Regions from separate parts of the Homo sapiens genome. Here region 2 is linked to region 1. Evidence: fine-mapped expression QTL. Tissue or cell type: subcutaneous fat. Region 1 holds a variant in brackets; the other region holds the start of a gene. All regions are shown on one strand. Distances are from middle to middle.

Region 1 (8,111 bases):
CTGTAGTCCCAGCTACTTAGGAGGCTGAAGTGGGAGGATCACTTGAGCCCAGGAGGTCAAGGCTGCAGGGAGCTATGATTGCACCACTGTACTCCAGGCTGGGAGACAGAGTGAGACCCTATATCAAAACAAAGAAAAAAAGAAAAAGCCTTCATGCTTATTTTCTCATTCTATCTTCTCTTTCCTTATCTTCCCATACTGAAGTGTTTCTATAGAAGAGTTGCTTCCATTTCCATTCCTTTTGCCATTTTATTCATGTTTTGCTTCATTTTTCATGTGAAGTTGAGTTTCTAAAAGTATTATGATGCAGTGTTCCTGAAATGTATATGCTTGTCTTTTGGCTTTGCTGCTTAGTTTTTTGTTTTTGTAGGGAGAGGGAGCCGCCTTTTGGTTACTCTATGTGGTACAATTTCTAACATTTCCTAGCTTCTTATATACTCCATTTCTACCTAGTAGTGAAAAACAAAACCATTGTCCTTTTGGCACACTATGATAGATTTTCACTTAAATTTAGCTTTGGGACTCTTAAATTGAGATCTCCCACTAGGCAATATTATAGAGTCACTGATAAAACCTATGCAACAGCTTAGAAAAATGAATAGATTATAATCACAGGGATAGAAGCCAATACATTAATATAAAAACTGGTCTAGAAGGATGTTTATCCAGTGTAGACTGGACCTCCACAGGAAGAACTTACGCTAAGGAATAGTTCATAGATCACAAACAGCATGAATCAATAAATGACTCTGAGATTTGTAATTTTTTAAACCTAACCTGATAATTTCTATACCTTAATAAGTGAGTTTAGTATATTTATTATATTTACTTTTCTGTTTGCTCAGTTTTATCACTATCTTCTAGCTGCATAAGGCAAACCACAAATAAACTCAACACTGCACTATTTTCTCTAGGGGATCCAGGGAGAAAACAGAACCATTACTCTTTGAAGTTGATAGTTGACATATATATTGTTTAGTTTGTGCCAGGCACTGTTCTAAGCACTTTGTAACTCATTTAGTCCTTCCAATAAGCCATGAGGCAGGCTTTCACATTACTCACATGAGAGAATGGGAGAAGAGTCTTAACTTTTCCCAAGGTTGCACAGCTAGTAGTTTGCAAGGGCTGATATTCAAATCTAGGCAGTCGGGTCCCCAACTCTGTGTTCCTAACCATTAAATGTCACTGTCTTATGAAAGCCTATCACATGGAGAACATCATAGTGAAGTTGAAAAATACAAAGAGAAAAGTCTAAAAGCTATTGGAATAGGGGAAAAAAAAGTTTATAAAAAGTGATTGGCAGGCTGACACTAGCAATGTCATCTCCCACTGAACTTAATGGAATAGCATTTCGAAAGTGCTATAGGAAAATAAATTGGCTTATAATTCTTAACTACTTTAGCATACACGATTGAAGGTGAAATAAAGCAATTTTAAGATGCACAAATCCTCTATCAAAGATTATCGCTGAAAGAACTACTAAAGATGTACTTCATCAAAGGGGAAGTTATTTCAGCTTTTGTGGCTTTTGGTAAAAACTCAATATGCATTTAAGAAGGTGCCTAGTATATTGTTTAGTGCATATTAATCTCTCAATGTCATTTTTTAAGAGAAATGTATGCTCCAAAGGTATTTACTAAAAATAAGATTCTATGAAAATTAGTATACTTAAGTGTTTTTCTAAAAACTGAAGTATTAGTCATTGAAAGAAAGCACTCATAGAGGACACTATAGCTGATGATGGCAGAGGTAACAAACTTAATGGTATTCAAGAATAGTATATTATTTATATTGCTGAAGAGTAAATATACAAACATCAACTTTAGTAGGTTAGATTACTAAATGATTTAGAATTTATGAATCATAAATAAGGATCATCTTCTGCTTTTTATGTCCTCAAAATTGATTAGAAAGCGCAAGCATTTTATATAACAATTCCATATTACGTGTTCATTTGAATTCTAAGATTTATTGTTTGTTTTTCAGCGCCTGGCATTGGAAGCGGAGAAAGTTCAAGCAGCTCACCAGTGGAGAGAAGATTTTGCAGTAAGAACCCCTTTTAACTACTTGATTTAAATAGCTTGACATATTGTGTATGGATAATTACATGCATATTAAAATATATTTTAATGATGGAATCTTATGATGTTGTGGGATTAAAAATAATCATACTTGTTGCTTTTTAAATAAATTGCTTTTGGGTAATCAGGGCCAATTAAGTTAGCCAAAATGTACTTTATGTTCCATATTACCAAAAAAAAACAAAAACCAAAAAACCCTTTAAAACCCTTGAAATGTTCTCCCATAATTAAAGGTACATTATTTATAAAATACATTAAAAATAGCATTAAATTTTAATATCTGAATAATTTTTGTCGATATTATGAATATACAAGTTGGAAAAAGTTGCTTTTAACTACTTTGAGTTTGTAAGAAGCAGTATACATATTATAATCACCTTGATGGTGGGCAATATGATGAAAGTGAGAATGAATATATTCAACTTCTTAAAATTTAATTTGCTTCACTTTAGCTAGAAGTAATCTCTCTTCTACTCTGGCCTACTTTGAGAAATGTCAGCTGACATTAGCGGTTGCATGTTTTTTTTTTCTTAATAAACTTGTTTTATGAACTAAGAGTTACTAGTTTATAGAAATAGCAGAAATTCTCCTTGTGGTAAGGTCTGCATATCTATCATTTATCTATCCTCTTATAGCCAAGGGGCACAGTAAAAAAAAAAAAATTCCTTAATAATCAGAAAGTACTTCTGTTACATACTTGAGTGATTACAGTTGTAGTGAAAGAAAATCTTTATAATTTCTGATCACAGAAAACTTCCAGACAACTCATTTTGGGGATGTAAACAACTGCCCTCTACCTTCCCACATTTAAAATAGGTTTAGAATGTGAGCGACAGCTTAATTGTACTCTTTGCAAAGCAAAAGTCTCAAATTTGAAGGTATGTAGTTGTGCTTCAGTAGACACTAAACTGAGGTTTAAGAATTAGCACTTCTTTGTGTTTCTATGATTATGTTGAATATCAAAGGAAAATGCACTAAATGATATTTAATTCATGTATATAATAGTCTTCCATTCTTGATACTTGTGATATTATTTATTTTTACTGTTTATCACTTATTTATATATTTTAAACAGTCTACTAATGAGAGACTCTATTTGACAACTGCCAGTTTGTTTGATTCTCTACTGAACTGATCATATCACTTAACTTGATTGGTATTAATATTATGTAGGTATTGGCTTTGTCTACAACCTTTATCATACACAGGTTAATAAAGATCAATTTGCTATCCATGATATATTAAGGAAAAAATCAATGATTAAGCTAAAAACATAAGCTCCTAGAGCATCGAGCAAACTGTAAGCTCATCTAGTGAATGAAGAGGCTTACAATATACTTAGTTGCTTTTAGATAAAAACGATTTTTTTTGTTTTTGCAAATAGGGAAAAAGCAGCAAAACAAATCTAGCTAAATATATGTTTGATTAACAACATTAAATATAAATTACTCTTCCCTTATGTCCCACAACATAAAGCGTGCATGGTAAAAGCAGTGTAAAGTCATAATAGATGTATGGCTAGATCATGTATTCTGCCTAGCATAGATATAATACCCTTGGTGCTGTTTTAGTTTGAATCTTCAGTAATTCGGAGAACTCAAAACAGACACACAAACTCAGCCTCTGAAATATATAGATTATACATTCCCTGTTCAAAGCACCCTTTTTCTTTGCCTTAAATTCATTTGGTAGTATTTTAAGTAGTCATTTATTAGTTGTATGTTGTTTTCACTTTTCTAAAGAGCAATAATGTGGAAAAAAATAACTTGGCAAGTAGGGTTGTAGTAATGCCTATATCATTGTTGTTTCATTTAACTATTATTTATTAATTTCTAGACATAAGGTTTCATTTCCTAGACATTGTGAACTCTTTAATATTGGGCTCATTAACACTAACATTTGGCAATTATTTTGTTTTCTATATTGAGGTAATGGGTAACCACAACACAAACACAATACAAAAACTCTAAATTCAAGTTTGCTATTACCATATTTTATTGAATGTAAATCATCAATTGTAAGGCACTTAGTCATTCTATTTATTTTAGTTATTTCTAAGAAAAAGCCACTTGGCCGGGCATGGTGGCTTACACCTGTAATCCCAGCACTTTGGGAGGCCAAGGTGGGTGGATTACTTTAGGCCAGAAGTTCAAAACCAGCCTTGTCAACATGGAGAAACCCTATCTCCACTAAAAATACAAAAATTAGCTGTGCGTGGTGGTGCATGCCTGTAATCCCAGCTACTTGGTAGGCTGAGGCAGGAGAATCACTTGAACCTGGGAGGTGGAGGGTGCAGTGAGCCAAGATCATGACACTGTACTACTCCAGCCTGGGCAACAGAGAGAGACCTCATCTCCCCCAAGCCCCCACCAAAAAAGCCACTTAAATTATGATGCATCAGCAATTGTATGCTGTATTCTTAGAGATGTCAAAAAGTGAAAAAAATTATCTTGAAATGTAACCCTTATTTTCTACTTTTTTGGTGCCTCTATCCAAGTAGCAGTACTGCTAAAAAAACATTGTGCAAGAGGACAAATCAGTCCCACAATAATACAAAAGCCATTACTAAATCTTCTATGGTGAAATAGAAAATGAATTATTTGCCCAGTAAGTATTAGGAATTCTTAGCAAAT[G/A]GTGGTCACCATGTGGGAGAATTCTTGAAGAAATTCTGTTCCTAATTTCCCCCTTGGTTACCTCACAATTTATTTAGGGCCTGTTGACATACTGATTGACATCAAAAGAGACTGTTAAAGGGAAAACAAGTTAGACCACTTAGAGTCCTGTCAACTCATTTCCTGAGCATCCTTCCTGAAGGACCGTGAATGATGTTGACAGGACACAGGTCTGTCACAGTTTGCACATTGAGAATTGCTATTTCCCATATCTAACCTTGGCAGCCATACATAGTCTTTATGATAGCCCTTCCCTTTGAAATGCCATAGAGTGATAGAAGGTTTAGATAGTGGTCGTTTTTGTGCTTGGAGAATAGAACCTCAATGAAGACTATCTAATCTTAAGACTCAAATAAGTAAAAAGTACAAAAATAATACATTCCTCTCAGCTTTTTTTTTGTTCCTAATAAACTAGGTGGTGCTTTAGTGCACAGATACAGCAAGGTTAAATAAATCCTTCAAGACCAGAGCAGAATACAGTTCAAATTCGTGGTTGAAACTTATAAATCATTAACATTAAATCTCTTGTTTTGTGAAAGCACACAAAACAATTGTAAATTTTCTCAATATTTTAACCAAACATTTAAAAATGGTTAATTTGAAGATAAATTTTATCATCTTTCAAAAGGTCCTTCTTTTAAACTTTATAATTCTTTTATCTTTTAAGGTATTTAACAATGTGCATCTGTGCAATATTTCTTTAATGCCATCCTTTAATAATTTAACACTAAGATGATTTAGAAGGCAGACATAATTTCCTAAAAGGTACATTAACATTTCAAAGAGCAATGTAATATTCTGATTCTTCCCTCAAGTGTAAGTAGGCAAGTTTCATTAATATTACTTAGGCAAAATGTTGATTAACCTTCCCTACTGTGTAATGTAGAGAAATCTCATGAACAACAAGAACAAAAGGCAAAGCACTAATATGCTGGCAACAACAAAGGACTTATGCAATTCACACTCTCTCTCAGCTCCATTCAATTCCCAACTGAATACACAATTGAGGGAACAAAGGGCGTACACCCTAAATGGATTAAGATTTATGTGGTCATGCATTTACAAGTTCAAACTAATATTTGTAAATAAGCTATGTCTACCAGCTGCCTGCTAGGTCTCCATACAATTTATGGGTGTTAAAGGTGACATTTCATGTCACTTATGATGGACAAATTATTCTATTAAGGGCAGGTGGGAGAAGCAAAAAAGAGCTTGGAAAGCTAATTGTTCTGCATGAAATAATTGCTATTTCTACCAAACAGATCTTTTCCAATTGCATTTCAAATCTCATTTGATTGCATTGCAATGGTTGGTTAACTAAAGCAATTTTGTTTCCAAGGAAGCTTGCAATATTAATTGTACTTACACATGTATAAACATAAGGGGTGTCTAATTTGTATTTTAATAAGTAGGATCTTTATGTATGGCTTATTAGCACCAGCTTGTTACTGTGCAGGCAGAGTACAGACGTCTAGAAATTGGCCGGTAAATAAAACATTTGAAGAGTCCCTTTTAGCTTCAGCTTCACAAAGTAAATTAGAAGGTGAAAATGTTTCTAGTGAAGTTGTACGTTATTGAGTGTCCGTCAGGCTAATTTAGTTCTCCAGTTATAGCTTTAATTTTATAATATTAAAATTACTTTGCCAAATCATATTTTGAAATGTTGATATTTTAAATTTTGTGTTTATGCGAGTTAAACTAATAGGCACCGGCATTATGTATTTAATCATTTCATCTATCCTTATTCATTTCATGAAATTGCATCGTTTTTATTGATTGTAGCAGAAACATTTTTGAATATGTGGAATGGGAAAACACACTGTATTTGTTTTACTTAGAATCGAAGACAGACAGTCACTTGGTATGAGGTCTTGGATATTGAAAGAACTGACTTTTAGGGATAAAAAGTGAGAGCGTAGCATTGTCTTAATGAATAAATAAGTGAATTTTAATAGATCACCAAAATGATTTTAGGCTCTGGCTTTATTTAGTCTTTCTTAGTTTCCACCTTTGGTTGAAACACTCTTGAAATCAAGAGCTTGCATATTTTAATGTTTTTGCAACATTTCTGCTATGTAGGGAAACAATTTTTTGTTACGGCTTTTTAAGAGTCTTGAGACTTTATCTTCATCATAAAGATAGATTAAAAGCCATAATGCAAAGCTCATTTACTCCAAAATTCTGGAAAACCAATGTAATGTAAAGGAGTCAGGCGTATTTGTGTGCCTTACTGTTGTTGTTCATGCATACGTATAAATGCCATGGTAAGAGTATTACAACACCAGCATAAAAAATATTAACCATGGGCTTTAAATTGTTAGTTATGCTGGGTGATAACCTATCTCTTTTGTTTTTTATATTGAAAAGAAGCAAAATATTTAATCATTAATTACCTAGTCAAAAACACTGGTTTCACAGTTAACAATTTTTAATATTTTCTAATGATTTTACTGACCTCACTTTCCATTTCTATTAAAGCCAAAATGACAATAGTACGTGATAGTACAGTGGAAGCCCCTGCAGTCAGACATCATGATGATATGTCCTGTGATAAAGTACATGTAGATATAAATGAGGCTGGGTAAATTTCCTTCTTTCTCTTCCTTCCCTCTCCTCTCAGGAAAGGAGGGAAAAGTTAAAAGAGGACAAACACCCTTGGCTTAGGAAATGGGGAGGTAGAAGGTGGTTCTCTATATTTTCAGGACCAATCCGCTGCTTCAATATCCTGGGATTGAGATGATGAAAATAGTGCTAAATTATTGGGAGATTCCTGGGATTGCTGCCAATGTCCTAAAAATTTCAGCCATGCAGAGCTGAATCATCCTCATTGATGTTTAGTCTGGAGTAGATTACTGCCACCAGCTGGTACCGAATTGCAGCTGTCAAAAGAGGGTTTTTGAACTCCAATTTCATTAGCCTCTCCGTAACTTGAGCTACATTTTATTAAAATTGTTGTATACTGCTTATTTGCATTAAAATGGGAGTGTACTGTATTTCTGAACTGCAAAATAAAAAAATTAAGAAAAAAATACATAAGCATTACAAATTACTGCAATTTTCATTTAATGCATAATCTAAGAAGATTTACTCCATATACGTATTTCCATCCATTTCATATCCTTGTTCAAAAATCTTCAGTGACTCTCCATTTATTAATAGCATATATTTAGGGTATACTAAGCCCTTTATGACCTGGCCCCATCTAGCCTTTCCTAAATTTTGTATTGCATAATCTCTCCAGCAGCTATTACTCCTGTCCTGAAATTCTAAGCTCAAAGCAGAGTAAATGACTGGACATTTCCCTAGAACAGTATTCTTTTCTTCACTTTCAGACCTTTTGATAATCTCTGCCTAGAAA
Region 2 (8,111 bases), 280 kb before region 1:
TTTTGTTTAAATAGGAAGTCATGTTGTAGGCCCTGATTTTTTCTGAATGTGTTTGTTTAATGGAGGAAACGGGAGAGAAAGAGTAAAATAAAACAAGAAAAAGAAATTGAAAGAAAAATTCTATGATTAGAGATTCAAAATAAAATAATATTGAAGTTATTGCTTGAAGACATGATGGTATTTTAAAATATAACAGCTACTTTTTTCTAAATATTTAAACTAGCATAAGTTTGCCAATATGGGGACTCTGATGGACAAATAATAAACTTCCAATAAATACTTGTTTAATGTTACTATGCATCTCTTTAGAAAAGGTATTTCTTTCATCAGAAATTCAATGCCCTATCATTTCAATAGCTGTATTACTTGGGTCAAGGCAAATTTTTTTCTAAATAGTTGTCTTGTTTGTAGAAAATATTTTACCTTGTTTATTAGTTTAGGATAGTTCCTTTTCTATGCTTTTTATTTTTTATGCAGGCTTCAATGTGCCACTTCACTTTAAAAATGCCAAATATAAACTCTTGACTTAAAAATCACTACACACTCTTTTAACCATTCTCCTGAGCATTGATACTTCTGAATTGCTTGCTTTCTTATTCCTGTCTCTTGAAAGTATTCCCCAAAGAAGTAAGATTGTTGAAGCTTTCTTTCCATTTGTCTTTACTTTTCACTTTCTCTGGCACACATCTTTGTGTGCATGGAAGCATAGTACCATCTCAAATCACAAGTTTTTCTGATTATGACTCTTAACAGTATGTCTATCTCAGAGATGAGTCATATACACCTATATGCATACAAGCAAATAAGGCCCTTTGTCAAGGTTTTCACCTTAGTTTTCTTAAGATGTGGAAAGTAATATGAAAGTTAATTATTTCCTTTAAATTTTTTTGGCTAAGGATAATTATTTTCCTTTTCAGTGTTTGGGTTTGCCTGTTTGTACATGAGAACAAAAAGAGAGAAAGATTAAATAATTTCAATTAGGTTACTCTGTCTCATTTTTTCAGGCAAAATGTTGAAGAAATTAGATTTGATTTACTGAAAAAAATCACAGAAAAATGTTTGTACATACATATACTCATATAAAAACTACAACAAAAACATAATTTTATGCTGCCAACATTCACAGTATCACCTAAAAAAAGGAAGAATAAACATTTCATGGCAATCAAGTTTTTATTGTTCTTTATTCACTTTTAGTTACTAAAAAATGAAATGTATATGAACAAATTAAATATATGAATTAAAAACTGAGATTTAGCCAAAAGGTGCCAATCGCAAGTTTGTTGTAGGTAAAGGTCAGTGATTTGCATGAATTAAATCTCTTTAAACTTTGTTCTAGAAATGATTAAATGCAAAAATCTCCTGCAATACTTCACTAACTTACTAATTAAAATATTTCTTCTTAAATGAATAGTAGATACTGATTTGCGACTTCTTGCTCATTTATAACCTGTAATATATTAACTGTATTTACTGCACATTTACATCATTTACTATAACAGCTTAACAACAATCCTTATGATTTGTCAACATGTTGAACAGCAAATTTATCGTGATTAAGCAAAATTTTATTAAGATTAATGGGATATAATCTGATTTTAAGGGAATTTTCCAAAATAACAGAACTGAGCTGAAAAAATGCATTGTTATGGGTATAGTTAATCCAACAGAAACCTAATGCTATGTTATGGAAATGGTCTTCTTTTAGCTGTCATACATTTAAAAAAAAACCACATTTTGAATATCCTCAATAAGAAGGTTTAGATTGGTAAAAAGCAATTAATAGCAAACCTCGCAACAGAGTATTAAACAATGATTTAGGCTCACAGATGATAACCAACCCTTTCAGTAAGAATTGTAGAAGCAATATCTTTCCTCAACAGCTTCACATATTGGAGAACTCAGTGCTTCAACAGAGTGATCCAAAGAAATTGAGATTTGGCTCAAAGGCCAACAAAGTTAATAATAAAGGCTGACTTACCTTCTCTACAAGCTTATTACATTCTTTTATTCTTTAAGCCCTTTCTCCTAAAGATATAAAATTGGAAACAGTGTACCATAGTGGGAAGTCTGGAGTTGATGTTGAAATAATTGACAGAATATATAACAATGGTATTTTTAGGTAGTGAGGCTATTGATACCAACATATCACATAGACAATAATGGGCATCTCTAATTCTGCTCTTCTTAGTCCTCATGCTGGGGAAGAAAGTCTGCTTTTGAATTATTAAAAATGGAAGAAATGATGGATTTGACTATTTACTTATCTAATTTTGGAGTGGAATGCTATCTTCAGTTATATAAAATATCCCTCCTGAGCTGTAGTTCTCAATCCCATTACATCCCACTTCATCCCTCATTTGCGCAGCTCCTGCTGCCACAGTATCCATGCCTAGCATAAAACAAACTAAGTTAAGTCACGGTGGGGTGCCTTTTGTGAGGCCACTCAGAGTAGAAAGAAACAAAGAGCAAGACAGAGATGCGAAGAACATAAAGAAAACAAATAAGGCATTAAAAAAAGGAGAAATAAGTGGGAAGGAAAAATAAATTCACCAGGCTAAGCATCATAAAATCACACACGCTCTTAAAATTTGGCCAGTAATTAATAGTAGTAGTATTATTATTAGTCTTTGTTTTGGGAGATTGCCTTCAGAGAGCTGGAAAATTCATTTCGAATTAATAAGGGTCTTTTTCTTTCAGAAGCATCTCCTAAAAATAAGAACGGGCTAATTAAAAATCTGACAGCCACCCCGATACTTACAGAATTTTTGCATATGCAGGATAGTCATCACAAATTGTATTCTCTGCACGTCATGTCAAAAGTATTCTCATACACTACTAGAGGGAGCTTAAGAATTTAAGGTGTGCAAGAATATATTTCTATCTTTGGCCCACCAGGGCCCTCTTGTAGGAGGCCTGTGTTGGGCGGGAGAGGCCTAGTCGCAGACCCTGTCTTTTCAAGGAGAAAGCCCGCCACTGCTTCCTCTGAGTCTGGAGATAAAACCAGTCCGGCATTGCTACTCCCTAGCTCTCTCCCCCTCCCTTAATTCCTCCTCTACATTTCAGGCGCATTTCTCAGAGTGCCACCTGTTCCTGCTGCTTACCCTTTTCATGCCTTCGCATTGACAAAAGTGAGCTCACCCTGCGGTAACCTTGTCAGGCAGGGCAGGCCAGTGGCCAGAGCAGGGCGTTAGGACCCTTTTGGAGGTAGTCCCAACTGGGATGCTGCAAAGCGCTTCTCTTACTACTGTCCTCCCTAGATGCAGAATTCGTCCCTCCACCCCTCTGTCCAATGGAACCACAGGGCTGGGAAGATTTTACAGCGTCAGTACTTCTCTGTCCGTCCACAGCCCGGTCCCTGAGGCTCTGTCCTCGCCAGGTGAGCCGAGCAGTACCTGGGCGTGGGACCGCTGGCACAAAGGGCACCCAGCCCCGGCAGAGGCTCTAACCTATGGCACACGCGGGCATATAGTGCCACCTGGTAGAGAGTCAACAGTGGTGCTTTAAAATGCAATACAAACCCCTCCTACATTTGTTGTCAAATCACTTCACGATTCCCAGGCAGGCACTGGATTCTGCGCCTGGGAGTAGGGCTGGGGGGGAACGCTGCCTGCATGTGCAAAAATAACCCCCGAAGACGCGAGCCAAGTCCTGGGTTGGAGCCTCTGCAGCCTGTGGATGCCCGCTGGGCGGCTGGCCGTCCCCCGGGAGCCCCGCGGGGCTGGTCCGCTCCGCCTGCGCACGCCGGGCGGCGGGAGCGAGCCGGCGCCGACTTTGGGAGTTCCTGGCTGCCTTGTATGGAGGGCTGCTCCCGGCCCGTCTCCGCCCGACTGCTCTGACGCCCAGCCCTCCCGCTGCCCACCCCCAGCCGCCTCCCTCTGACTTGCCTAAGAAGCCAGACGGAGCCTCTCGCTTCCACAAGTCTCTCTGCCTGCCATTCCCCGATTCCTGCAGCCACCCCCACCCTCCAGCGCCGTCACCCCTCCTCCGCCCCCGCCCCCGCCTCCGCCTTCGCCTCGGCAATCGGGGGAATAAATCAGGGAGGAAACCGAGAGGGAGAGCGAGAGCGCGCGAGCGCCGGCGGGCTCGCCGAGGTCTGTTTCCAAAGTCGCCCTTGATGGCGGCGGAGGCAAGGCGGCCGCGGCGCGGAGCAGCCGACGCACGCTAGTGGGTCCGCCCGCCACCGCCCCTTCCTCGGCGTCCGCTCCCGCCCTTGCCGTCCCCCGCGCGGCTCCGCGCCTCGGGCCCCGGGCGCAGCCAGCCCTCCAGACGCCCGCGGTCCCGGCGGCGTGTGCTGCTCTTCCTCCGCCCGCGGTTTCCAGCGCCGCTCCTTCCCCCGCTTGGGCAGGGAGGGGGCATTGATCTTCGATCGCGAAGATGGCTGCTGGCTGCCTGCTGGCCTTGACTCTGACACTTTTCCAATCTTTGCTCATCGGCCCCTCGTCGGAGGAGCCGTTCCCTTCGGCCGTCACGTAAGTCGGCGGGCCGGGCAGGGAGCGCCGGCCGAGGGGCGCCGCGGGAGTTGGGGGTGGGGGTCGGTTCCCGAGTCGCGGGGCTTTTCCGCCCGTGGGGGTGGGGAGCGAGCGGCCGGGGAGCCAGGCTCGGATGCGGAGACGCCGGGCAGGCGGTGCGCGCCGCTCGCCGCTGGAATGCGTCCCGAACCGGCGTCTCGGGCGCCTCCACGGGGCCGGGCACTGGGGGCCGACTGTCCCGGGAAGCGCCCGCCGACGACTCGCGGCGTCTCAGCCCGTCTCTAACGGGATTCTCTAGACTTCAGAGTGCAGCCGTACTGGGGAAAAAAGTTTCCAGCCAGCTCACCCGCTCTGATTCAACCCAGTTCAATAAAAAGTTATGTTTTGGTTGGGTAATTTACAAACAGGTAATTTCAGGCTTGCCGAGGTAGCGTGGACTTCCCCCGCACTTGGCCTCGGAGATGCTCTTTAATTGCTGTAGTGCCCAAACTCGTTTTATCCCACGTTACTGGATGCACTTGACAGCCTTCCGATTAGACGCGTGCTGGCTCCCCGCGGCCGAGCGTGCTGTCCACGCAGGGGGCTCGCAGGTACTGGGACCACGCGATCCAACCTCCCCAACCCATTATTTGAAACATCTAAGTGTCGGCAGACACGCGGTCCCTGTTCTTCAAATGAATAGAGCCTATTCTTTGAAGGAGGGACTATTTCCAGTCTCCTACAAATTTTCTTTTATTTTTACCATTTCTAAAATAACTTTTAAAAACCTCGCTGCTGTTCTGGAAATAGAGGGCTTATAGGTAGCTATAGTCACACCACAGGAAGGGAATGAAAAATAATAATTCTCTCCTTTCTTAGCAAAATAGAATCAAACTCAATGGCACATATAAATATATACATATTTTTTAATGCACCGAATAGCCTATCCGGCATTCTGGGAAAGCATTTATTTTGGTTCTTGGAGCTTCTTTAAAGCTTCTAAAGGTAGGTAATCTTAAGTGGATGAGTCACTTTAATGCATTTTACATAACAAAAACAAAGCCCAAGGTAGCTTTCCCGGTATTTATGCTGCTGGGAATTACTTGCTGTCCTTTGTTGGCTGAGTGCTGAATACAGGAGTTTTTGGTGGAAAGTAACAGTGAATCTTTAGCGGTTGAAATCCTGCGGCTATTATTTAAGATTCAGTTTTAAGTATTTATTACCTTAGGTGTCAGTGCAAGAATCTGGAGGATGCACATTCTATCCCGGAGAAGGGGAGTGTCTAATTTTTGTTGTCATTGAGTTACAGTAATGTTCCTCTTTAGATAATCTTCCATAAAACTGATTGCAGATCCTTTTTGTTATGAAGCAAAAGGGTAAATGCCATCTGGAGATCTTCGTTTAATTGGCAGGATGTTCCAGTCAGATATTTTTAAACATAAAAAGAGTAAGAATCACCCTAAGGATGCTTCAGAATTATTTACTCTTATTAAGGCATCACACTTCCATTTAATTTTTTAAGTCTGTTTGTTGCTTGGCCTGTAAAGTGAGAACTCAAATGAGTCGCTTGCATTCTGTGTCAAATAAATAAGTGGCTCTTTAAAAAACAATCACTTCCTAAATGTGTTCCGATTACTCATTTTTACAGTGTTGTTTTTAACTGACAATTTATCAATATTTTTATCATGGGAGGGGATACATCATCATACCATTGGGGAAAACTACAACAAAATACAACCTTTTATTCCTCAACATACTGTGGTAAAATATTAATGTAAAAATCCTTATTGTTAAGAAGAACATCTGCAATAATGCTTTCCTAAAATTATAAGTAAATCAATTTTCATGGTCAGAAATTTACTAGACACAAGAAAGAGTATATATAGTGGGTTAAAATGGGAAGTAGGACATCACAATTTCTTTTCTTTGGAAGGATCTGAAATTTTTTTTAACGATGAAAATTCAAGATATTTTCAAATTATATAAGACATTGATTATTTAATGAATGAAATACTTAATAAAAGGTTTTGTGGAGCGAAGTCAATCTCCTGTAGGTAATCTTAACAATATTTTTGGAAGCCTTCTGCATCTTCAGTTTTTCATTTGAAAAGTTAGTAACACTGTCTTCTGAGGAAAGAACTGATGGTTGACATTTGTACTTCATGTTAGATTTCTGAATAAACTTTATGAAATTAAAAAATGCAATATTTTTCATAAAGATGTGCCATTTGCTTTTCTTTCGAGAAAAGAATTCATATGCACTGTTTAATCAGGACAAATCTCAAATCTTTGGGGGAAAATTTCAAATTTATAAAAACTGAGTGCAAAGACTGTAGTGTCAATAAAGGCAAATTATTATGCTTCTGTATGTAAATTTCTCTCGGAATCATTAGTAAATATTTTTGGGTTTTTTTTTTTGCCAGTTTCATTTTTCACAGAAAAAGTAATGTAAGAAGTTTTTATCAGCTGAAGAGGAAGAGCATGCCATCACACACTATAAAATTAATTATGCACTAATTGGAGTTGGACTTCAATTAGAATTAGTAGTTCAAAGTTTTTTTTTAAAAATATAGAGTGTTTACATTTGTGTGAAGGGCTTAAATTCTATTATGGTAAAACAAATGATGTGTCAGTTAAGTATCTTCTTTCATTTTTTGCTCTCCTGTTTAACATACATTCTAATATAAATTTTCTTTTGGATTAAAGTAGTAGTTAACCTGTTCTAAGAGTTAACACTAAAATAGATGTTTTTCAGACAAGGAAATTTTGATATGATTATTTCTCTGGGTTAGGTGTTTCTTTTGGAAATGTTTGTCTCCCTAAGGTGTGAAACATAAATACATGATATGGTAGCAGCCACATAATGTGTATTGGTTGATATATAAATGGAAAATATATCATTTTTATGCTATAGTATGCACATGTCGTATTGGTATTTTTAAAATGTAGCTTTCAAAAAGGGTAGTTGTCCGTTTTTCTAGAAATAATTTCTTGTCACATGTTAAAAGACTTCTATTTTAATATTTAGAATTACATGTGTGATAGCCAGTATTATAATGGTAATTTAAATTTGTCCTTAATTTTAGAATCTATTTACAAATGCAATTAAAAAATATATAGTTATAACTGTTAATATCAAACTTTTATCTCAGTCACATCAAAATGCCAGTCAGTCTACAATAATTGGCTGAGAGCCTATTGGTATACAGGGATTTTAATATAAAGTGTACAATGGTATAAATATAAAACTAAGAATTGTGGATATCCACAGGAAATAAGCATAAATTCTCATAGAAGTATAGTACTTTTGGCTTTAATTACTTAGGATATTTTTTTTTCCTGTTATTAGAGAAATTTGTATTTAAGGCTATAAAGGAGAAATTTTGTATGTCAGGATATTGTAATGGATATCTGTTCCATGCATTATAAGTGACATAATTATTCTCACTTGAAGTCAGCAGTTTCTGTTTACATTTTACATACACAAGGAAATGTGCCATATGATCAATTATGAGATAAAATATTAAATGTAAAATAAAACCTGAAACAGTGAACATTAATAAACTTTTCTCAAGTCTTTAATTTTGTTCTCATCGGCTTAACCATATAACATTTACTATTCCACAGATGTATGTTTTAAAATATGCAACAATAGATATA

Alleles and levels. Alleles are on the strand shown, and positions count from the first base shown. SD is a standard deviation of normalised expression in the study named.
For the expression in subcutaneous fat of the gene that starts at base 4,060 in region 2, A is the high allele of the variant in region 1 and G is the other (moderate effect, 0.66 SD a copy in TwinsUK).

Evidence for each region. PIP is the estimated chance that this variant, and not a neighbour inherited with it, causes the effect.
Region 2: CACNA2D1 starts here. The variant in region 1 is fine-mapped to the expression of CACNA2D1 in subcutaneous fat (TwinsUK, PIP 0.95).

The regions. Positions count from the first base shown.
Region 1 is chr7:82,164,485-82,172,595 of GRCh38, reverse strand. It overlaps CACNA2D1 (calcium voltage-gated channel auxiliary subunit alpha2delta 1), which reads left to right. Exons shown (of 39, transcript NM_000722.4): 4 at 1,987-2,046. Among named protein-coding and RNA genes, the nearest start is that of CACNA2D1-AS1, 160 kb to the right of the region's middle. The variant G/A (reference allele first, on the strand shown) is at 4,715.
Region 2 is chr7:82,439,726-82,447,836 of GRCh38, reverse strand. CACNA2D1 (calcium voltage-gated channel auxiliary subunit alpha2delta 1) reads left to right here and starts at 4,060. Exons shown (of 39, transcript NM_000722.4): 1 at 4,060-4,472. The coding sequence starts at 4,378. RefSeq lists an enhancer at 5,055-5,618.